3 linked regions of the Homo sapiens genome follow. The protein of the gene in region 3 interacts with the protein of the main gene of each other region in a biochemical or structural test. Each region holds a gene or a part of one and is shown on either strand. Other genes may lie near its edges.

Region 1 (5,970 bases), on a different chromosome or scaffold from region 3:
GATGGCATAAAAAAACAAGCCACAGCTGAGTCCAGCCTAGCTCACCCCGTTGCTGGTGTTATAACCTTGTGTATAGTGACTTAACTTTCTGAGTTTCTTTTTCCTCTCCTATAAATTGGGAGGAATATTCACAAGGGTAGTTATGAGGACAAAGAATAGTCTAGTGAATGGTTTTAGCACATAGTGTATAGTAAACAGTATTCATCCTTATGATGAATCTTGTTAATATTAATAACAAGACATGTCATTTGTTGGACAGCTCTAGTTTTAGAAAGGTGTTTTAAAACCGGCTCCATTTGATGCATACCAAATGCATTGCCTGTGAAGTCTATCCTTTGGTTATAATAAAGAATGTAAAAGAGTTAAGAGTTGCGTAACAGTAGAACAGCTTACTTCGAAAAGTAGCTAGTTGCCCATCAGGGAAAACTATTCAAGCTGTGTTCTAGCCCAGACTAATTGACCATCTGTGAGAAGTTGGATAAGTCTGTGTTCTTCTTCATGACTTCCAGGGACAGACGTGAACCTCTTTAAAAAAAAAAATTAGGGAAAATACGCAATTTTTCTCTTAGAGCCCCTTCCAGCAGAGAAACTTATTATTCTTAATGAAACATGTCTACTGTCTGTATAACCTTGTTTCTTTTCTTTCTTTCCTTTTTTTTTTTTTTTTAATTGACATGGAGTCTCACCCTGTTGCCCAGGCTGGAGTGCAGTGGCATGATCTCGGCTCACTGCAATTTCTACCTCCTGGGTTCAAGTGATTCCCCTGCCTCAGCCTCCCGAGTAGCTGGGCCTACAGGTGCCCACCAGCACACCCAGCTAATTTTTGTATTATGATACAGGCTGGTCTTGAACTCCTGACCTCAAGTGATCCGCCTGCCTTGGCCTCTCAAAGTGCTAGGATTACAGGCATGACCCAATGCGCCTGACCCCTGTATAACCTTATTTCATCCTTATTTCATGGACCGAAGGCCATGATCAAATAGGTCATGTGCATAGAGTCATTAAAATGTAATTTTACAAATGCAGTGCACAGCCTTATTTGGGTCCTGGATTTGGGGGAAAACATCTATAAAAGACATTTTGGGGATAACAGGATAAATCTGAATATGAAGCATAACTTAAATGACATTATATAATTAATTTTCTTAGGTGTGAGAATAGTGCTGTGATTATATAGGCACATGTCCTTATTCTTAAGACATACCTGCAGAGAAGTATTCAGGGGTGAAGTGTTATGATATCCAAAACTCATTTTCAACCAGCAAAGTAAGTGTTACATATTAACAATTGATAATGCTATGTAAAGGTACAGATATGAGCCTCTTTCAAGAAAAGTTAGGGAAAATATAATATGCAATATTCCTCTTAGACCAGAAGCTCCAGTGAAATTCAGGGATGATTATTATCCAAAAAAAATTAACCTTAATGTGGGGTAACATTAGTGTAATTTCTTGCCACTAACCATGATTTTTTAAATGGAAGCAGATCTATCTGTTTGTAGCAGATCTATCTATTGTTGGTTATAAGATAACCAACTCTTAAATCAGGTCTGTGCTGTAACATAAGACTAATAATATGTTTCATACAACAGAGGTCTTGTCTGTTGGAATAATTATTTTCCATAAAGGCCATGTGCTCGCTTTTAAACTTTTCACTCATTTTTCTATTTATGCTCTAATCAGGTTTTCCGGTGCCTTCCCAATGATGAAGTACACAATTTAATTCAGCTGAGAGACTTTATAAACAAGCCCGTATTAGCTAAGGAAGATCCCATTCGAGCTGAGGAGGAACTGAAGAAGATCCGTGGATTTTTGGTGCAATTCCCCTTTTATTTCTTGTCTGAAGAAAGCCTACTGCCTTCTGTTGGGACCAAAGAGGCCATAGTGCCCATGGAGGTTTGGACTTAAGAGATATTCATTGGCAGCTCAAAGACTTCCACCCTGGAGACCACACTGCACACAGTGACTTCCTGGGGATGTCATAGCCAAAGCCAGGCCTGACGCATTCTCGTATCCAACCCAAGGACCTTTTGGAATGACTGGGGAGGGCTGCAGTCACATTGATGTAAGGACTGTAAACATCAGCAAGACTTTATAATTCCTTCTGCCTAACTTGTAAAAAGGGGGCTGCATTCTTGTTGGTAGCATGTACTCTGTTGAGTAAAACACATATTCAAATTCCGTATACCAAAATCCATTTCCTTTGTAACAAGAATTTACCAGTAACTGTGATCTAGGTTGCCAAAAGTTGTCTGAATCTCCTTATTCTTCTCTGATCTTCATTTATGCAGCCAATGTCTAGCTGGACCTGCCCTCATCTTGCAGTTCATACAGGCACTGTTTGAGAGATTGTTTATTATTAGATGTTGTAATGCTGCTTCAAGATTCTTCATGGTTACATGGGATGCCCCTGCTCATCTGGTCCTGAAGTAGTAACATTCACCCAAATGAGGATATAGTCATTATTCCTTTTCAGTCACTGTACGAACACGGCAGACTTTAGCCTACACAGTAGACTGTGTTAGGCACTTCTGGTAACATTGACACTGTATCTTGACACCACTAAGCAACAGGAAGGAATAAATTCCAATATTGAGACAGAGATTTATTTCATTTTGCTCCCAAAGGCACTGACAACATGAGTCCTTGTGATTAGGCCCACCTGATCAAATGTAAAAACATGCATGGGATATTTGATTACGTAACAACCAGCTAAAACTGAGAGCACACAGCCTTCGGAAACCCCCAAGGTGTCGAGGAGGATCAGATCCAGATAAGAGAAGATGATTCCTTCTAGTCCTGTAAAATTTCCTGTCATCCTTAGCTGCTGGGTTGATTGAAATTTGATCTCTACATTTCAAAATCAAACTAGTGAATACAGTTTGTCTTTCAAGAGAATCAGAGGCATCGTAACTCCTACCAAGTTAGTAAGTATGAGTCTAACCTTGTTTGACATTCAGGTCTTCTGCTACATTATCTTCTTTGAGAAAAATTAATTGATTATAAAATATGTGCTACTTCACTTACATTATTAAATATGTATTAACGCCTCTCACCAGGGCTTCCAGTGAAGTTACAATGCCCTAGTCTGTGAATTAGTCTGGAAACGTGTTTTTCCTTTTCGGATGTTAGAGTACCCTTTGATAAACTAAATTTTACTAAGCTGAACAACTCTGACAGTCTAAAGAGCTAATGTGGGTTACCAAAAGGCCTGTACCTGTAAAACAAAATGCAGGTGTAATGATTATACATGTCTATGGATTACCTGGACATACTCTCATTTGGGTTGTTCTTCAAAGAAGCAAGCAGCCGATCCCTGTTTTCATAAAGCTAATACTTCAGTTGGAAAAATTAAACAGGAGCACAAAGTCAGGGATAGGGGTTAGCAGAAGAGAGAAATAGTGTCACATCAAGGGCAGGATCTCATAGCTAGGGAACATTTCACAAATAAGGTGAGATTTTGTAACCAATAATAAAAATGAATGTTTTTATAAGTAAATAACTTATTTTTCATATGGCTAAAGATGGTAAAATGACTTCATTCTATAGCCATTGTAAATAAGAATTTGCTATTGATGAAAGAAGTTCAGATTGGCATTTGAAGTATTGAGTGTATGGGATCTCTAAGGATTTCTTAGATTTTATATTTAAATATTTTTTAAACCTTAGAGGAGTCAACAAACTGGCTCTTGATTTTCAGCACCCTACTCTCATGAAAAAAGCCTGAAAGGACCCTTTCCCTTATAAGTAATTTAATCCAATTTCTCCCCATTTTATAGATGAGGAAACTGAGGCTCAGATCAGATGAGAACTCACTTAAATCCACTCAATGTGTAGATGGTAGAGCTGGGACTAGCAACATTGCTGCAGCCCATTGTTGGCCTCTCTCTTCACTTTATCATTGCCCAAGAATGAGGATATGCAGTAAACAGAATTCAGGCAAGATACCTCTAAGCTGTTTTGAACCCTCTGATATTTTGTATTTATGTGTTTGTCTGTCTCCCCCTACTAGAATGTAAGCTCCATGGGGCAGGGACTTCACTGTATTTTGTTCATAGTGTATCCCCAGAGCCTGGACCAGTGCTTGGCACATAGGAGATGGCAATAAATGCTTGTAGAATTAATAAACAAGGTGAAGGAGAGAGCTAATGAAATGAAAATCTTAGTCTCATATAAGAAGTCTTACTACTGCTTTCTATGGCAAGTTCCTTTTCTATTGCATCTTCCCAAAGACAAGATGCTCATCTGCAAAGGGGTGATAAGATTTACTTGGAGGGATTTTATGGAAAATTCAGTGCAATAATTGCTTTTTTTTTTTTTTTTGCAGTAGCAGTTTACATAGTACAGCATTCTGCAAAAATTGCATGAAATGTGGACACAAGATGTACTGTATGACTTAATTACCTGTCATTCTCTGACACCATTACTACCTACTAGAAGTTCAAATAATTTATCTTTAACATTGCAATATCTGATAAACTTTTTAAAATGTAAATAATTCAAAGCCTTGAAAATCTATCATGAATCTGCTCAACATTTCAAAGTGACTATTTTGAAATGCCTATAAATGCTATATACCTGACATCCTGCTAATTTCTGTAATAATTTTTGTTTTCAAGAGGGAAAAATTCTAGTATTACAAAAAATGAATGATGGAAAGTGGCCATGGTGTATTAAAGCTATTCAGATTGGCCACGTTCAGTCGTCGGAGGATAGCCTTAGCATAGCAAGTCTGGTGCGGGCGTTTGTTCTGAATCTAGTGTCCAGCCCATGACTCACCCTTCGGTGGGATGTTTTTAATTCTTACCTGGAATGCATCACAGGGAGGCATAGAGAGCTGGTCATTAGATAATTGTGTGGCATACTGTAAAACAAAATGTTTATTTTCAAAGCACTTTTGAAAGGAAATTTTGTCTGTAAGTACTCAAAATATGGACAGTTAATTTCTTATGTAAGAACTTGGGAAATTATAATATCATGAATTAATACTTTTCCAGACAAAAACAACAAGCTGAGAAGTCATTTTGCGGATATAAGACTAGGAAAAATAGATTTATGTATATAGAGCCTGAACTTTTTCTGCATCTCCTCATTTCTTTTTTTTTCTTTTTCTTTGTTTTCTTTTCTCTTTTTTTTTTTTTTTTTTTTTTTTTTTTTTGAGACTGGGTCTTGCTCTGTGGCCCAGGCTGGCAGTGGTGTGATCTCAGCTCACTGCAGCCTCTGCCTCCTGGGCTCAAGCAATCCTCCCACCTTAGCCTCCTGAGTAGATGGGACTACAAGTGCATGCCACTACACCCAGCTAATTTTCGTATTGTTTGTACAGATAGCATTTTTCCATCCCAATGCCAAGCAGGCGGATTGCTTGAGCTCCCTCCCCTGTGCTGGGATTGCAGGCGTGAGCCACCGCACTGGCCTCCTCATTCCTTATTCCTTCAGTCTCTATCCCCTACCACAGCACCTTCTTGTTATGTAAAAATTATTTCAAAAGACAAGAAAAAGTATTCTGGAAAAAAAATCAGGCCTTATATTAGTCTGCTCAGGCTGCCAAAACAAGATGCTCTAGACTGGGTGACTTAAACAACAGAAATTTATTTTCTGACAATTCCAGAGACAGGAAGTTGGAAATCAAGGTGCCTGTATGGTAGGTTTCTGGTGAGGACTCTTCCTGGCTTGTCGGCCACCTTCTTACCGTGTGCTCACATGGCCTGTTTGTGTGAGCACAGGAGGCAGAGGGCAAGCTCTCTGGTGTCTCTTCTTCCAAGGCCACTAATCCTATAATGAGCACCCTACTCTCATGACGTCATCTAACCTGAAATTACTTTCCAAAGGCCCCATTTCCAAATACCATCACATCAGAGATATGGGCTTCATATGAGCTGGGAGGGAAGACACAAACATCATTCAGTCTATAATAAATATTCACTTAACTCATACTTTAAAGTGACTGACAAAATAGAATTTTTTCACATAG
Region 2 (8,390 bases), on a different chromosome or scaffold from region 3:
GACCCTCCATCACGTACAGGATGTAGACACTGAAAACCCCCCCACACACAAATGAATGTTGTTCTGTATTAGTAGCTAGCTACCTATCACCCCTTTTTAGCTTTGTCACCCAGTTCCTCTCGCCATTGTTCTCTTCATGCTACAAATTAGGCTTGGATCAACAATGAAAAGCTCCAAGGCAATTTTTTTTTTTTTTGAAACGGAGTCTCACTCTGTCGCCCAGGCTGGAGTGCAGTGGCACCATCTTGGCTCACTGCAGCCTCCGCCTCCTGGGTTCAAATGGTTCTCCTGCCTCAGCCTCCCATGTAGCTGGGACTACAGGTGTATGCCACCACGCCTGGCTAATTTTTTTGTCTTTTTAGTAGAGACAGAGTTTCACCATTTTGGCCTGGATGGTCTTGAACTCCTGACCTCATAATCTGCCCACCTCGGCCTCCCAAAGTGCTGGGATTACAGGTGTGAGCCACTGCACCTGGCCTCCAAGGTTATTTTTTAAGTGACAACCCTGGTTAGAATGACTCCTAACTAAATCAAGATGAAACTATCACCCCATAGCTAAACCCGGTGATCAAGACTAAACAGCTTATAATGAACACACAGCCTGGAAATATAGCAAGATAACATTCTCCCAGGCCACAGAAATCACAGTTGCAACTAACCTCTATTTTTTTAAATCATTTTTTTAAAACGACTCTTTCACCATGTCCAATAATTCCAATAACTTACCGATCAGCAGCTTCTATGTCAAAACAAAACCTTCTGTCAATGGAGTCAGTATGCCTCTTGGTACATTCTTTCAAAAAGAACACCTCTCCGTCCCCCTGCAAATAATCATTTTGAACATTCTCAAAACCTACAGGATAAGTATATACACACTCAGCCATTCTATACTGGAGAGCAGGGGAGCAAGGTTCAAGATCTTAAGTCCTTCTCTTTACCCTATCCTCTTTCAAACTGGCTTATTTAAATGCTATTTAGAATCTAAAATATTAATATTTTTGTCATTCTCCTGATTCTTTTGAGAAGGGAGCCTCGCTCTTTCACCCAGGCTGGAGTGCAGTGGCAGGATCTTGGCTCACTGCAACCTCCATCTCCCAGGTTCAAGTGATTCTCCTGCCTCAGCCTCCAGAGTAGCTGGGATTACAGGCATGCACCACCACACCTGGATGATTTTTGTATTTTCAGTAGAAACAGGGTTTCACCATGTTGGCCAGGCTGGTGTCAATCTCCTGACCTCAGATGATCCACCCGCCTCAGCCTCCCAAAGTGCTGGGATTACAGGCGTGAGCCACCGCGCCCAGCCATTCTCTTGATTCTTAAGATTTTCTAGACCTTACTGATGATGGTAATGTTATGCCAGACAATACCAATGTTACTTTTTTTTTTTTTTGACAGTCTTGCTCTGTTGCCCAGGCTGGAGTGCAGTGGTGCAATCTCAGCTCACTGCAAACTCCGAATCCTGGGTTCAAGCAACTCTGTGACTCAGCCACCCAAATAGCTGGGATTACAGGTGTGCATCACCATGACTGGCTAATTTTTGTATTTTTAGTAGAGACAGGATTTCACCATGTTGGCCAGGCCAGTCTCAAACTCCTGACCTCAAGTGATCTGCCCACCTCGGCCTCCCAAAGTGCTGGGATTACAGGCGTGAGCCAGTGTCCCTGGCCAAATGTTAATTTTCAAAGGTAGATTAACAGTACAGTTTTAAGATACTGGAATACTGTTAGTCTCTTATTGTACTCTTTTTTTTAGTGTAAAAATTTATTTCTTACCACATGTCACAAAAAATATGTGACTATTTTTGGCCTATAAAAATTGCAATTCCATACACGTCAGCCTAAAAGTACACCGATAACCCTAGATTAAATATTTTCATAATCTAAAGCTAGAACCATTTAATCTATGCAATTTCTCTCTTCCCTATGTGAATCACCCTGAATTTATCTTTACTTAATTTGCAATGCAGAAATACAAGTGCTCAGTAAAAGAACAACTATATAAAGTGTGAGTACACACTTATTGAACATTTTAACATTTTCCAGAACGTGAAGATCTCTAAGTAACAAACATTAAGATACACAAATATTCAAAATCTCACAGTTATATTCCATAACATATTTATCATTATTATTTGGAGGCTAAAACAGAAAGATATCACTAAGCAGAAATATCTTAGGACTTGAACTGGCTCTGACAGGAAACTCAGTCTCAAACCTGATGCTTCAAGAGCCATCTCCTCACTTCCTTCTCCTCACCATGACTAATTTTCCATGTCTGTTTCATTATTATATAAATGTGTTTTTATTAAAAGCTGCTTTAAATATTTTTCAGGGAAAGGCATAGTACAAGTAAATAGAAGTGAACATAGGTTTTTCTTTTTTTATTCACCTAAGCAAAACCATACCCATTCACCCAGTAAGCAATGAATTAAGCTGCTTTCTTAAAATGTGTTATCAATTATGTTCAACATTGGTGGGAAGCTTTGTCTCTAGGCCATTAATTATTGTAATAAGCTGCAGATTCCATTTAAAATACATATAAAGATCACCTTTCCTACACAGCCAACTCTGTGAGGTCTTCTTGCTCTTTTCTTACTATCATGCTTTGCTGTTTTAGTTTCAGGGGGAACAGTTAACTAAATGGTGAATACCTATGTGAGAACTTTGTAAGATGAACAGAACAACAGTAAAATTTATCGTAGATCACTCTTCTTTGTTTTCAGGCTATGAACAGCAAGTCAGTTCCATTGTATAAATGCTGAGGAACCACTGAGTCATGAAAGCTTGCTGTCAGTGTTACCTTTATCTTCCAAACAGTGGCATAAAAAGGATTCTATTGTTCACCTAAAAAATATCTAGTGGTTAAAACCACATATTCTCACTCTTAAGTGGGAGCTGACAATGAGAACACATGGACACAGGGAGGGGAACATCACACACTGGGGTCTGTGAGGGGGCTGGGGGCTAGGGGAGGGATAGCATTAGGAGAAATATCTAATGTAGATGATGGGTTGATGGGTGCAGCAAATCACCATGACACATGCATACCTATGTAACAAACCTGCACGTTGTGCACATGTATCCCAGAACTTAAAAAAAAAAAAATCTAGTGGTTTAAAACCCATGCATGTAATTCAGAAAACATATATATTGTTCTGTCTTCTGGCCCATTTCACTCAAAAACAAAACAAAGATTTTAATACTAACAATTTATTTACCATCCATGAATATAAACCATTAAAATATAAACCATTAAAATGACACCCTCAAACACTACCTCTGACAGATTATAATCTATTCTATGTTGAATCAAATACTTACAAGTTTCCCTCCAGATCTGTGCTCAAATGGGATCATGTTGAACTTCTTTGCTGCTTTTCGATACATGCAATAGTGTTTGACCCAACTGGAACCAAACGGAGCAGGCCCTTCAACAAAAAAACAGCCCTTTATATTTTCCCTCATAAATAAGCAGATTTGCAGAGCTATAAACACATTACTAAAGAGGAAATGTCTAAAACGCAGCAACGAATACAGCTGAATCAATGAAACAAATCAGCAATACTGCTAGTTCTAAGAAGAAGAGGGGAGGCCGGGCACGGTGGCTCACGCCTGTAATCCCAGCACTTTGGGAGGTCGAGGCGGGTGGATCACAAGGTCAGGAAATCGAGACCATCCTGGCTAACACGGTGAAACTCCATCTCTACTAAAAAAAATTAGCCAGGCATAGTGGCAGGCGCCTATAGTCTTAGCTACTCGGGAGGCTGAGGCAGGAGAATGGTGTGAACCCAAGAGGCAGAGCTTGCAGTGAGCCGAGATCGCGCCACTGCGCTCCAGCCTGGGCAACAGAGCGAGACTCCGACTCAAAAAAAAAAAAAAAAAAAAGAGGAAGAAGGAAAATAAGAGATACTTTGAAACAAACCTCTAAGATTTAGCAAGACAGAAGTGATTTAAAGACATACTGTTTAAATAGTTTGCTAGAAAAATCAACAGTTATGTCCTATCTGAAAATCTCTTAATTGTAAGCTCTATTTTTTGTTTGTTTCTAGGTATTAAGAGCTCACAAGGGTTTCAAAAGTTCCATCCCATATATGAGATGGTTTGGGATTTAATTCTGGCCTCTCAAAATGATAGAATTATAGAATCATAGTGCTAAGAAGCATCTAGTCTAAAAATCCACCTAGTGCTTTAAGTCCATGAACAGCATCCTAGTAAGCAGCTGCTCTTACTGATGATTGAAAGCTAGCCTTTAAAAATGAAGTATGGGCCAGGCGCAGTGGCTCACGCCTGTAATCCTAGCACTTTGGGAGGCCAAGGCGGGTGGATCACGAAGTCAGGAGATGGAGACCATCCTGGCCAACGTTGTGAAACCCTGTCTCTACTAAAATACAAAAAATTTAGCCAGGCGTGGTGGCACGCGCCTGTAGTCCCAGCTACTCGGGAGGCTGAGGCAGGTGAATAGGCTGAACCCAGGAGGCAGAGGTTGCAGTGAGCTGAGATCGCGCCACTGCACTCCAGCCTGGGTGACAGAGGCTCTGTCTCCAAAAAAAAAAAAATTAGCTGGGCGTGGTGGTGCGTGCCTGTAATCCCAGCTACTGGGGAGGGTGCGGCAGAAGAATGGCTTGAACCCAGGAGGCGGAAGTTGCAGTGAGATGAGATCGTGCCACTGCCCTCCAGCCTGGGTGACAGAGCAACACTGTCAAAAAATAAAATAAAATAACATTGGTATTGTCTGGCTTAACATTACTGTAATCAGTAAGGTCTAAAAAAATCTTAAGAACCAAGAGAATGGCTGGGCCTCGTGGCTCATGCCTGTAATCTCAGCAAAAAAAAAAAAAAAGTATGAAGAATAAGAAATCTAAGACTCAATAGGAGTGACTGTCCAAGTATGCCCCAGAACACTCTCTGAACCCCTTTTCCACTCTTACTAAGTCAGCAGTACCACCATCAGGGCTCACAGGACAATGCTGTATGTCAGAGGGACCTCTAGCATCTGGAACTTCACATGCCAATAAAAGTCCAACCATAACAAATTAAAGGTTAGGCCCAGCAGAAGTTGACAATTTCTTACTTTACTGAGTCAAGACACTTTTAAAAAAGCAATTAACATCTGTTATCACAGTAATTTCATGTACAAACAAACAAAGTTTCTACACCTAAAAATCAAAAAAGCCCAGGAGGGGAAAAATAACTCATGTAAAAGGAATGCTTTTAGCTAGCTTTAGGAAAAGCTAATTACATTATTTGGGACAGGGGTAATAGATGAAAAGGGTTACCAGACCACTATCAATTTTATCTCAGACCATCATCAGTCCAAAGACCTGAATTTGGGAAACATTGCTTTGTGTTTTAAAGAACCAGCATTTGTACTGTGTTCTATGGTTGACAAAAAAAATATTGCACAGATATTTTATTTAACTCTAAGAAAAAAAAAACTGCCCAGAGAGGATGATACTGTCTATTTAATCCAAAAAAAATTTAAGCTTAGCCCAAATGCCTGGAAAATGACAAAGCCAAACCTTAAATCAGAATCTCTGGCCCCAAATATCAAGGTCTTTCCACTACTTAAGCCACCATTCCCTTCTGACAACCAACAGGGCCTATTCAACCAGCTCTGGGCATACACACTAATGATGCTCTTTCACGCCTGTTCAAGCGCCAAGCAATTTACGGGAGACATTACCAACACAGACTCCAGGTTCAGAATGACAACTCCAGCATTTAGTAGTTGTATGACCTAGGGAACATTATTTACCTCTCAGTGCCTCCATTTTCATTTATAAATGGGCAACAGTAATAGTACCTTATACTTCATAGGGCTGTTTTATGGATAAATGAGACAAGTTGTATACGAATTTAGCACAGTGCTGGGTATACAGTAAATGAGGAAAGAATTTTACCACTACTGTTATGTTGTTTCAGTCCAATTTCTCTCAAAGGCAACAGTGATGAATCTAAAAATTAAAGTTTCCTGTGATTTTCACTTGGGCATATAATACAAATAATTCTAACATTCTCAAGACTATCGAGGTGGTTTTTTGTTTTGTTTTGTTTTTTTCCTTTTTTTGAGACAGAGTCTTGCTTTGTCACCCAGGCTGGAGTGCAGTGGCGCGATCTTGGCTCACTGCAAGCTCCGCCTCCCAGGTTCACGCCATTCTCCTGCCTCAGCCTCCCGAGTAGCTGGGACTACAGGTGCCCGCCACTACGCCCTGCTGATTTTTTGTATTTTTTAGTAGAGACAGGGTTTCACTGTATTAGCCAGGATGGTCTCGATCTCCTGACCTCGTGATCTGCCCACCTCGGCCTCCCAGAGTGCTGGGATTACAAGTGTGAGCCACCGCGCCCAGCCCTATCTTGAGTTTTAATTTATTTCTTTCAAATTCAATTTTAAAAACTGAGATTAAGAAGATAATGTATGAGAAAAATGGAGACTTCTGCCATATCATACAACTGCTCACAAAAGGTGAAGGCTGCGAGATTCCAGATTAAATAAGGGCAAATGGAAAAGGCACAACCATCCTGCTGCCTGCATAGAACATTAACTTCTATTCAAAGCACAGATACCCTGTAACCGTTCCCTGAGTCATGTCTACCACTAAATTTTTAGGTCGGATTGAAAGTCCTGTAAATCAGCCACACTTAAATGAAGTGAAAACTGTAAAACACCCTAATCACAGTTAAGGGTGGAGAGGGAGGGAAATAGTAAAGAGACCCATTTCACATTCTCATCCCTTCTGCTAACTAGCAATTGGGTTGTACAGTTGACGTAGTAAACGTTAAGAACTTAGCTGTTAAAATAAGACCAAATGTTCAAAGTCTGAAAGAAATACAGGTCTTTTAATTTTCAAAATGAGAACAATCTATGCACTGCATATTTGCTAAGACAGCAACAAAGACTAAAAAGCCTACAAGTTAGGATGCCACGTAGGAATATCTTTTATCACCATCTGCAATCTTCCTGATGATTTTAGTAAGAACCAGCTATCTCAGACTGGTGGGAACAAAAATGGTATGAAGGAAGAAGAAAAATACTAATATGTCCCTCTTGACCTTAAGATGACAGAGAGGCAGGGTTATGGGAGGGAGAGGACGTATACGTGTGTATGAATGAATGTGTGTGCCTGTGTGCATTGGTGATGAGGGTAGAGGTGAGGGGGAAGGAGAAAAAACATCATACCCTCGTAACTCTGGCTCATTTTCAGCCTTACACCAAATTCTGACTCTCTTACAAGCATGTTCCTGGGGTGCACACAGTGTAAAACAGAAGCTAGTGGGGTGTCTGAAGAACAGGGTGCTCACAGCCACTCCTAACCTCACAGTACCCCCTCTCTCCAGGGCTGGAATGTGTTTCTCCTAAACATGAAATATACACCCATTAGGTGATAGGAGCAGGGAGAGAAAGAGGTAGGAATAATTGCCCAAAATGTCACAGTAATGGCAAGAATAGCAGAGTTTTCAATAATTTGCATTTTTAAGCAGCCACGCAGCCACTGCTGGAGGGCCTCTTACTTTTTTCCTGGACATACAGGTAGCCTTCGGCTGTAAACTGACTTGCTCGTTTGTGGTCCTTGGGATTCTGTCTGATTTTGTTCATGAGCTCTTCCACTTCTGACCTTGTTCCTTCAAATCGATTCCGTGTCTGAAATGGATTAAAAAACACACATAAATGTTAAGTTCTCATATGAGTTTTCTCATGAACATTTTAAAGTCTCTGCATAAATGTAATTACATTTTTTAACTCTAAATAACTTTTTTATAAATTTCTCAAAATACCCCCATTCTTTCCAGTGTGCCTCCTGAGATTCATGTGCAAAGAAAAAAAAATAGCAGTAAAATAGCTACCAGAGGAGTATAAGCCAAGGTTACTACAGGTTACTTTGGAGGCTTTCTAACACCATTAATAATTTTACTATTCAACATAAAAATTCCTGCCTTCAGGTCTCACACTATTACTAAATTTTAGGTTTAAAACATAAGTTAGGTTTTAATATAGCTACCTGAGAAGAATTTCCTTTGCAACAACCAATCTGACTCAATCAATCTGTTTTGTTACTGTTACATTAGCAGTCTGTAAATACTCAGAATCTGAAAAAGTTTAATTCTTCTTTGCAAACTAATAAATACAAGTGTCAGTTTTTCCAGGTCATGGCAATTGCACTTGAAAATGACATTTCTTCCCTGAAGACAGAAGGGGGAAAAAAAATCTCACCTACACAAATAATGTCTTTGATATCTGAAGAGACAAATCACATTTCTGAAACCCAGGACACTTGGTGTGCCAATATCTGTCAAACGGCTACACCGAAAACATATATACAAGGTGAAGTGACAGAATTAGCAAGGCAATTGTGACGAGTCAGCACCACCGTGTTCCTGGACACTTCTTTCATC
Region 3 (8,447 bases):
TGCAGCTCCCGCAGCTCGCCATGCAGCTGCTCCAGGCGGCGGTTGGAGGACCGCAGCAGCTGCTGCACATGGCCCAAGTGGCGGCGGTCTGTGGCCACGCGCCGCAGGTTCTCCACCCCCTCCTTGATCTTCAGCTCTTTCTGGATGGCCCGGCGGATCACCTCCTTCTCATCCTCTGGGGGCCACTGGCTCGGCCCAGGCTGCAGAGCCGGTGGAAAGCAGAGGGTGGAGAACAGCCATGGGGTGCAGCGGCCACCAGCAGCCTTTGCTCACTGCAGATGGAGGCGAAGGAAGGGACGGCACCCAGGACTGACTCGCACAGGGTTTTGGAAGCCTCTCTCCCCTTAGAGCTCAGGCCTGAGCCAGATGGAAACTCCGAGGCCACTCATCTAGGCCAGGCTCCTGTCCTCCGCCCGTTAGAGAAGGATGTGGCGGGGGGGACAGTTCACACGGTAAATGGGTGCCAGGTTCTATTCTAAGTGCTTTGCATATATTACCACATCACTCCTCCCAGCCACCCCACCCGGTAGCGGTGGTCATTACCCCCATTTTCTTTTTTCTTTTTCTTTTTCTTTTTTTTTTTTTTGAGACAGTTTTGCTCTTGTTGCCCAGGCTGGAGTGCCATGGCACGATCTCGGTTCACCACAACCTCTGCCTCCCGGGTTCAAGCGATTCTCCTGCCCCAGCCTCCTGAGTAGCTGGGATTACAGGCACACGCCACTAAGCCCGGCTAATTTTGTATTTTTAGTAGGGACGGGGTTTCTCCATGTTCGTCAGGCTGGTCTTGAATCCTGACCTCAGGTGATCCACCTGCCTTGGCCTCCCAAAGTGCTGGGATTACAGGTGTGAGCCACCACGCCTGTACTATTACCCCTATTTTCTAGTGAGGAAACTGAGGCCCAGAGAGGTGAAGTAACTTGCCCACAGTCAAGACACAGAGGAGGGGCCACCATCTCTCGGGCCCCAGCTGTCCCTGGCAGCCCTGGGTAATCAGGCTGCTCTCTCTACATCTGGGACCCAAAGTAGAGTCCAGGAGCCACAAAAGCTACGCCGAATAGGGGTTCACACGAAGCCACATGAGAAGGCAGCCAGGGGCCTGGGAGCCAGGGCTTGTTCCCCTGATGTCCCAATGCCACAGGTAGCAAAGCAGAGGCACAGAGAGGAACTGGGGAGGTCTCCGGGTGCCCACTCCCTGCTCAGCTCCCGGGAGGAAGTAGAAGGCTCTCTCACGGCTTCACCCAGGTTGGAGCCAGGAACAGGAACACCTCCTTTCCAGCCGCCAGCATTTCAAACCAACCGGTGCCAAAGGTGACCTCAGGCCGGGTAACCCATGATGCCCCGCAACACGGGCTGTTGCAGGAACCCCATCTTACCTCTCTGTGTTCCATCTTCTCCTGAGCCCAGTGGAAGGGGCCGCAACCCCAGACTCAGGGACCCCCCCACCCCAGACCTCAGCGGGGCCTGCTGGCCCAGCTGTCAGAGGGCAAGGGCGAGGCTCAGGAAATCCTCTGACCGCCCTAGGCCACAGGGCCAGAGCCAAAGACCGGAGCAAACAAAGGTCCCATGGAGCTGGGGGCCCGGCCACCGGGGTCCTGAGTCACCCAGCTGCCGCTGCAGGGCGGAGCCCCGCAGGAAATCGGAAAATGTGTACAAGCTACGTCTGGAACAGGCGGAGGGACCTCCAGAGGAAGGGGGTGGGAGGGGGCAGACCGAGCCCCAGCCCTGAAGGCGGCCTAAACGACTGGCTTGGGCGCTCAAGGAGTCTACACGCACCCCGCAACACCCCCATGGTCCCGTCTGCCCTGGGTTGGAACTCCAACATGGACACACACACCACCTCCTTTCCGCTCTTTGCGGGGACCCACTCCTGTCCGCAAATGCCCCCCTCCCAACCACTCGCTCCGGAACAGGACACCACCTCTCCCTCCTCAGGAGCAGATAGACATGGCCTCGGTCCTCCGGGCCCACGCGCACCTACTGCCAGCTCTGGCAGGAAACCCAGCCCCCTCCGCATTCTAGAACCCGCTATGTACCCAAAGGTTCCCGCCCTGGGGCGGGGGAGGCCGCTCCCCTCTCATCTACGCTCCCCTCGTGCCTCCTGTGCTCCGGGAAGGACTCCTGCCACTGCCAAGCGCGCACAGACTGCGCCCCCCGCTGCGCGCACATTCTAACCCCCCCAGGCCCCTGTGCCCCGCCTTTCTATCCCGGCTAATTCCCGTCGGCCTTGGAGCCCCACCGAGGAGAACCGACTTAAGGACACTCTGGGGACCACCCTGGTGGCGCACACTGCGGACTCAGCCGTCCTCGCTCACGGGCTGGTTGGGGTTCAGTCTCCGGGTCAGCCGCGGACTGATTTGGAGACTGTGCAAGGTCCAGGAACCACCGAACCCGGAGATCAGGTCTGCTCTGCGAGGGCGTCGCGGGGCCGGGGCCAGGGCAGGGGCAGGGAAGGGGCGCGGGTGAGGGGAGGATCGGGGGAAGCGGCCGCGGTTCGGGGCTCCGGGGCGATGACAGAGGCTTTCTCGCACCCCCCGGGCCCGCGCGCCCCTCCCACGCCGTTCACCTGCCGCGGCGCCCCCTCCTCCATGGCGCCGCTCCGGCCGCTTGGGGCCCTTCTCTCAGCCACTCCGGTCCCGGAAGCCGCAGACCCTCCGCCAGGACTTTCAAACTTGAAACTTCCCGGGAAGCGGCGCCGGAGACGCGGGATCGGGCGCCCCCTCCCGAGACCCGCTGGCCCGCGGGACCAGCGCCGCCTCCCGTCCGCGCCGATCCAGCGCCCGGGACCCCACGCCCGAGGTCCCGCGCCCCAGCGCCTCCCTCGGATCCAAAATTCCGCGGGATTCTGGGCCCAGTACCCGGGCTTCGGCGCCTGCGGTTCCCGCTGGGCGTGACCGCGCCTCACCCCCGGTTTGGACGCTCAGGAGGCACATCGCCCGCGCCCAGGTCCTCTGGCCTTCCCCGCCGCGCGCCCGCGGGAGCCGGCCAGTTAGGGACAGGGATGGGGGAAACAGCGCCCCCTGAAGGTTGCCGGGTCGCCCAGCCGGGTGCAGCCGGTGGAGCTGGCCGCCTCCTCTAACTTTGAGCCCCTCTACAACCTGGCTCCCGCCTCTAACGCGCTGGGCCTCCTCGACCAAGCCCCTCAAGTCTCTCTTTGTCTCGCACGTTGTTGGTGTAATGTGGGCTAATCCAAAATTGTCTCTCTCCTCGGAGTGGTTGGCCCAGACTAGATATTAGTCACTACAAGAATGTATACTAGGCCAGGTGCGGTGGCTCACGCCTGTAATCCCAGCAGTTTGGGAGGCAGAGGTGGACGGATCACGAGGTCAGGAGTTCGAGACCAGCCTGGCCAACATGGTGAAACCCCCGTCTCTACTAAAAATACAAAAATTAGCCGGTCGTGGTGGCGGGCGCCTGTAATCCCAGCTACTCAGGAGGCTGAGGTGGGAGAATCACTTGTACCCAGTAGGCGGAGGTTGCAGTGAGCCGAGATCCTGCCACTGCCCTCCAACCTGGGTGACAGAGCGAGACTCCATCTCAAAAAAAAAAAAAAAAAAAAAAAAAGAACGTATACTTGTGGAAAAGTAAATCCTCACCCAAAATTATGATAAATTACAAATTACAGATGAATGAACCAGACCTCTCTCCGGCCCATCTCTTACTCAGACTGAGCTTGCTGGTTCAGCCCGTGCCACTTTTTAGGGCTTTACCCTAAAAAGCCCATCCATCCACACGGGAGAAAAGCCATTTACACCTGGTGAAATAGCCGCCACTATTTCAGCCCAAGGGAGGTGTGCTGGTCACTGCCTAGTCTATGGCGGGCCATTCAGCCCGTCCTGGCATCCTGCGTTTACAGGAGGTTGTGTCAGCACTTCGTGGAGGAGCGTCCTCCAGGAGGTGGGAAGGTGATGAAGGGTCAAATACCGACAGTGACTTGGAACAGACAGGCTCTGGTGCTCTTACTGAATGAAGGAAGCCACATGTTGTGCTTTGCACTAATCACTTCCTTCATAATGGACTGGAAAAAAGTGAAATTGGTGAGCCATGGACAACACTGGGTTGTCCTGCTATGGGAAATCACCCAAGTGGCATTGACATATAAGCAAAGGCAACTTGGCTCTGTGAAACATGCCCAGATTTCATAATCAGAGGCGAAATGTGACATTTACACATTAGAGTTGTTGAGGTCTAGACATTAGCAGAAGCACCTGGCACATAGTAGGTTCTTTGACATGGGGGTTGGCTGGGCATGGTGGCTCATGCCTGTAATCCCAGCACTTTGGGAGGCTGAGGAGGGCAGATCACTTAAGGTCAGGAGTTCAAGACCAGCCTGGCCAACATGGTGAAATCCCGTCTCTGCTAAAAAAAAATTAAAAAGGCAGCTGGGCGCGGTGGCTCACGCCTGTAATCCTAGCACTTTGGGAGGCCGAGGCAGGCGGATCACAAGGTCAGGAGTTCGAGACCAGCCTGGCCAACATGGTGAAACCCCGTCTCTACTAAAACTACAAAAAAAAAATATTAGCTGGGCATGGTGGTGGGTGCCTGTAATCCCAGCTACTAGGGAGGCTGAGGCTGGAGAATCACTTGAACCTGGGAAGTGGAGGTTGCAGTAAGCCAATCTCGCCACTACACTCCAGCCTAGATGACAAGAGCAAAACTGCATCTCAAAAAAATACATAAAATAAAAAATTAGAAAAACTAGCTGGGCGTGGTAGCGCACGCCTGTAGTCCCAGCTACTCGGGAGGCTGAGGCAGGCAAATCACCTGAATCTGGGAGGCAGAGGTTGCAGCGAGCTAAGATCACGCCACTACACTCCAGCCTGGGCAACAGAGCAAGATTCTGTCTCAAGAAAAATAAATAAATAAAAATAAAATAAAATGGAGGTTAAATGAACGTTATTATCCATCATTTAGAAGCAAAAAGGCTGACCAAGCCCAGTGGCTCATGCCTGTAATCCTAGAACTCTGGGAGGCTGATGAGGCAGGAGGATTGCTTGAGGCCTAAGAGTTCAAGACCAACCTGGCCAACATAGTGAGACACCATCTCTTAAAAAAGTAAAATAAAGAAGTAAAAAAGTCCTCAGCTTCTCACTGCAGCTCATCAAAAACCCAGGAATCAAACTAACAAGCCTTCCCCACCTTTTAGGAATTCTCCAGTGGTGCAATCAGTCCAGCCAGCTAATTAACACTTTAAAATGTGTATTTGCCTTGATGGCTAAATGTTACTTCTGGAAGCCAAGAGTAATCTGAGATAACTCTCCATAGGAGGGTGCTCACATCTCAACTCCCGGCTCATTTATCCACTCACTGCAGGCAGGAAGCTGAATTCGATGGTTTTCCAAGTTTGGTTGGAAAGTGGCTTTGTTTTTTGTTTTTTTGAGAGAGTCTTGCTCTGTCACCCAGGCTGGAGTGCAGTGGCTCAATTTTGGCTCACTGCAACCTCCACCTCCCGGGTCCAAGTGATTCTCATGCCTCAGCCTCCTGAGTAGCTGGGACTACAGGCACATGCCACCACACCTGGCTAATTTTTTTTTTTTTTTTTTTTTCTTTGAGACGGAGTCTCGCACTTTCGCCCAGGCTAGAGTGTAGTGGCTGATCTCGGCTCACTGCAAGCTCCGCCTCCAGGGTTCACGCCATTCTCCTGCCTCAGCCTCCCGAGTAGCTGGGACTACAGGCGCCCACCACCACGCCCGGCTAATTTTTGTATTTTTAGTAGAGACGGGGTTTCACTGTGTTAGCCAGGATGGTCTCGATCTTCTGACCTTGTGATCTGCTCGCCTCGGCCTCTCAAAGTGCTGGGATTACAGGCGGGAGCCACCGCGCTCGGCACACCTGGCTAATTTTTTATATTTTTAGTAGAGATGGGGTTTCACCATGTTGGCCAGGCCAGTCTCGAACTCCTGACCTCACGTGATGCACCTGCCTCAGCCTACCAAAGTGCTGGGATTACAGGTGTGGCTGCCGCGCCCGACCTGGGGAGTGTTTTTCACCACCTTACACAGGGAAGCCAAGTCCTGGACTGCTGGATGAGTCTGACCAGGTAGTTGCACCTTACTTCTGATAGTGATAACACTTCATAAGACTGGAATTCTTAGGAAATTCGTGTTCAGCATTTAGTGGACCGTGAATAGTGCAAACCAACTCTCTAGCCAGTTGGCCTTTAAAAGACTATAACTCACTGGGCGCGGCGGCTCGCCTGTAATCCCAACACTTTGAGAGGCCGAGGCGGGCGGATCACGTAAGGTCGGGAGTTCAAGACCAGCCTGACCAACATGGACAAAGCCCGTCTCTACTAAAAATACAAAATTAGCCGGGGTGGTGGCGCATGCCTGTAATCCCAGCTACTCAGGAGGCTGAGGCAGGAGAATCGCTTGAAACCGGGAGGTGGAGATTGAGGTGAGCTGAGATCGCGCCATTGCACTACAGCCTGGGTAAAAAGGGCAGAACTCCATCTCAAAAAAAAAAAAAAAAAAAAGACTATAACTCAACTGAAAGGAACCTAAAACTTGTCAACAGGCTGCATGAGGAAACATTTTCCCCCTTCCATGAATACAATTTTTTCCTTCTTGGTGTTGCAACCAATTTTTGTTTTTTCTGAGACGCCATCGCACTCTGTCGCCCAGGCTGGAGTGCAGTGGCACGATCTCAGTTCACTGCAACCTCCGCCTCCTGGGTTCAAACAATTCTCCTGCCTCAGTCTCCCAAGTAGCTGGGATTACAGGCGCCCACCACCATGCCTGGCTAATTTTTGTATTTTTAGTAGAGATGGGGTTTCCCCATGTTGGCCAGGCTGGTCTCGAACTCCTGACCTTGTGAACACCCACTCAGCCTCCCAAAGTGCTGGGATTACAGGCGTGAGCCACCGCGCCTGGCCCTACAACCAGTCCATTTTTATTTCGGTTTGTCTCTGGGTAGAATCTGAGCACACAATGTCACCAACTACAGTTGGTCTATACCCTCCACTTTAAAAGTCCTTGCTATTCTGCAGCCCTTTGCCTCAGGCCTATTAAAAAGTAAACTTGTGCTGGGCGCGGTGGCTCACGCCTGTAATCCCAGCACTTTGGGAGGCCAAGATGGGTGGATCATGAGGTCAGGAGATCAAGACCATCCTGGTTAACAAGGTGAAACCCCGTCTCTACTAAAAATACAAAAAATTAGCCGAGTGTGGTGGCCAGTGCATGTCGTCCCAGCTACTCGGGAGGCTGAGGCAGGAGAATGGTGTGAACCCGGGAGGTGGAGCTTGCAGTGAGCAGAGATCATGCCACTGCATTCCAGCCTGGGCAACGGAGCCAGACTCCGTCTCAAAAAAAAAAAAAAAAAAAAAAAAAGGAGTAAACTTGTGACTGGCCGGGCACTGTGACTCACGCCTGTAATCCCAGAACTTTGGGAGGCCCAGGCGGGCAGATCACGTGAGGTCGCGAGTTTGAGACCCGCCTGACCAACACGATGAAACCCCATCTCTACTAAAATATGAAAACTAGCTGGGTATGGTGATACGTGCCTGTAATCCCAGCTATTCAGGAGGCTGAGGCAGAAGAATGGCTTGAACCTGCTAAGTGGAGGTTGCAGTGAGCTGAGATCGTGCCACTGCACTCCAGCCTAGGCGACAGAGTGATACCTCTGTCTCAAAAACAAATAAAATGAAATCACTGGAGAAACAAAAACCGAGATGGTCTAAAGCAGAATATTCCTTAAGGTTTTGAAACTAGATGTAAGGACATCTTGCAAGCTACTGCCCTCCATCCTAATTCATGCAGTTATTAAATACCCCTCATAAACCAAATACAGCACAGCTTGGGAACACAGCCCCTTCCTAAACAGCCATTATTACTCTTGTCTTGTTTTGAACAGGGTCTTCTTGCTCTGTGGCCCAGGCTGAAGCACGGTGGCAAACTCATAGCTCAGTGCAGCCTCAAAACTCCTGGGCTAAGGCAATCCTGCCCCAGCCTCTCAAGTAGCTAGGATTAGCCTAGCGCCACCACACCTGTTTTTTTGTTTGTTTGTTTTTTAATGGTAGTGTTGGGATGTCCCTGTCATCCAGGTTGGCCTAGAGCTCCTGGACTTACACGATCCTTCAGCCTGGGCCTCCCAAAGTACTGCAATTACAGGTATGCGCCACTGTGCCCAACTTCTATTTTCTATTTTCAAATGTCCTTGAGAAAAGGAGCTGAGCCCATTCCAATACACACTAAAGACCAGCCCAAGAACTTGTCTTGCAGTTGGACACAAGGCATGCTGGCTACTGTGTATGGAAGTTTTTGGTACAGTAAGGTTGCCATTTTGTTTTCTCACAGCCTAGTTCTCTTACAAGATTTGCAGATATTAGTGGCACCTCAGGAGATCACAATAGTTGAGTGAACTACTACTACCTTAAAGGGCTCCCGATTTTTTACATTCCCGAAAATAAACGTTATTGTGACCTATAACCTGACAGCCCTAGACGCTCACCA

What was found.
Region 1: the proteins of PKN3 (region 3) and PLD1 form a complex in vitro, tested with the Homo sapiens proteins (one study listed by IntAct).
Region 2: the proteins of PKN3 (region 3) and ARHGAP10 form a complex in vitro, tested with the Homo sapiens proteins (one study listed by BioGRID).

What each region holds. Positions count from the first base shown.
Region 1 is NC_000003.12:171,599,015-171,604,984, reverse strand, and holds the end of PLD1 (phospholipase D1), read left to right. Parts: intron 1-1,682; coding exon 1,683-1,907; 3' UTR 1,908-4,581; downstream 4,582-5,970. UniProt on the Homo sapiens protein: Function as phospholipase selective for phosphatidylcholine. Implicated as a critical step in numerous cellular pathways, including signal transduction, membrane trafficking, and the regulation of mitosis.
Region 2 is NC_000004.12:147,874,269-147,882,658, reverse strand, and holds part of ARHGAP10 (rho GTPase-activating protein 10), read right to left. Parts: intron 7,639-8,390; coding exon 7,509-7,638; intron 3,428-7,508; coding exon 3,321-3,427; intron 822-3,320; coding exon 727-821; intron 1-726. UniProt on the Homo sapiens protein: GTPase-activating protein that catalyzes the conversion of active GTP-bound Rho GTPases to their inactive GDP-bound form, thus suppressing various Rho GTPase-mediated cellular processes. Also converts Cdc42 to an inactive GDP-bound state.
Region 3 is NC_000009.12:128,697,056-128,705,502, reverse strand, and holds the start of PKN3 (serine/threonine-protein kinase N3), read right to left. Parts: upstream 3,001-8,447; 5' UTR 2,588-3,000; coding exon 2,564-2,587; exon of another isoform or gene 2,079-2,563; coding exon of another isoform or gene 2,034-2,078; exon of another isoform or gene 1,389-2,033; coding exon of another isoform or gene 1,374-1,388; intron 403-1,373; exon of another isoform or gene 201-402; coding exon 1-200.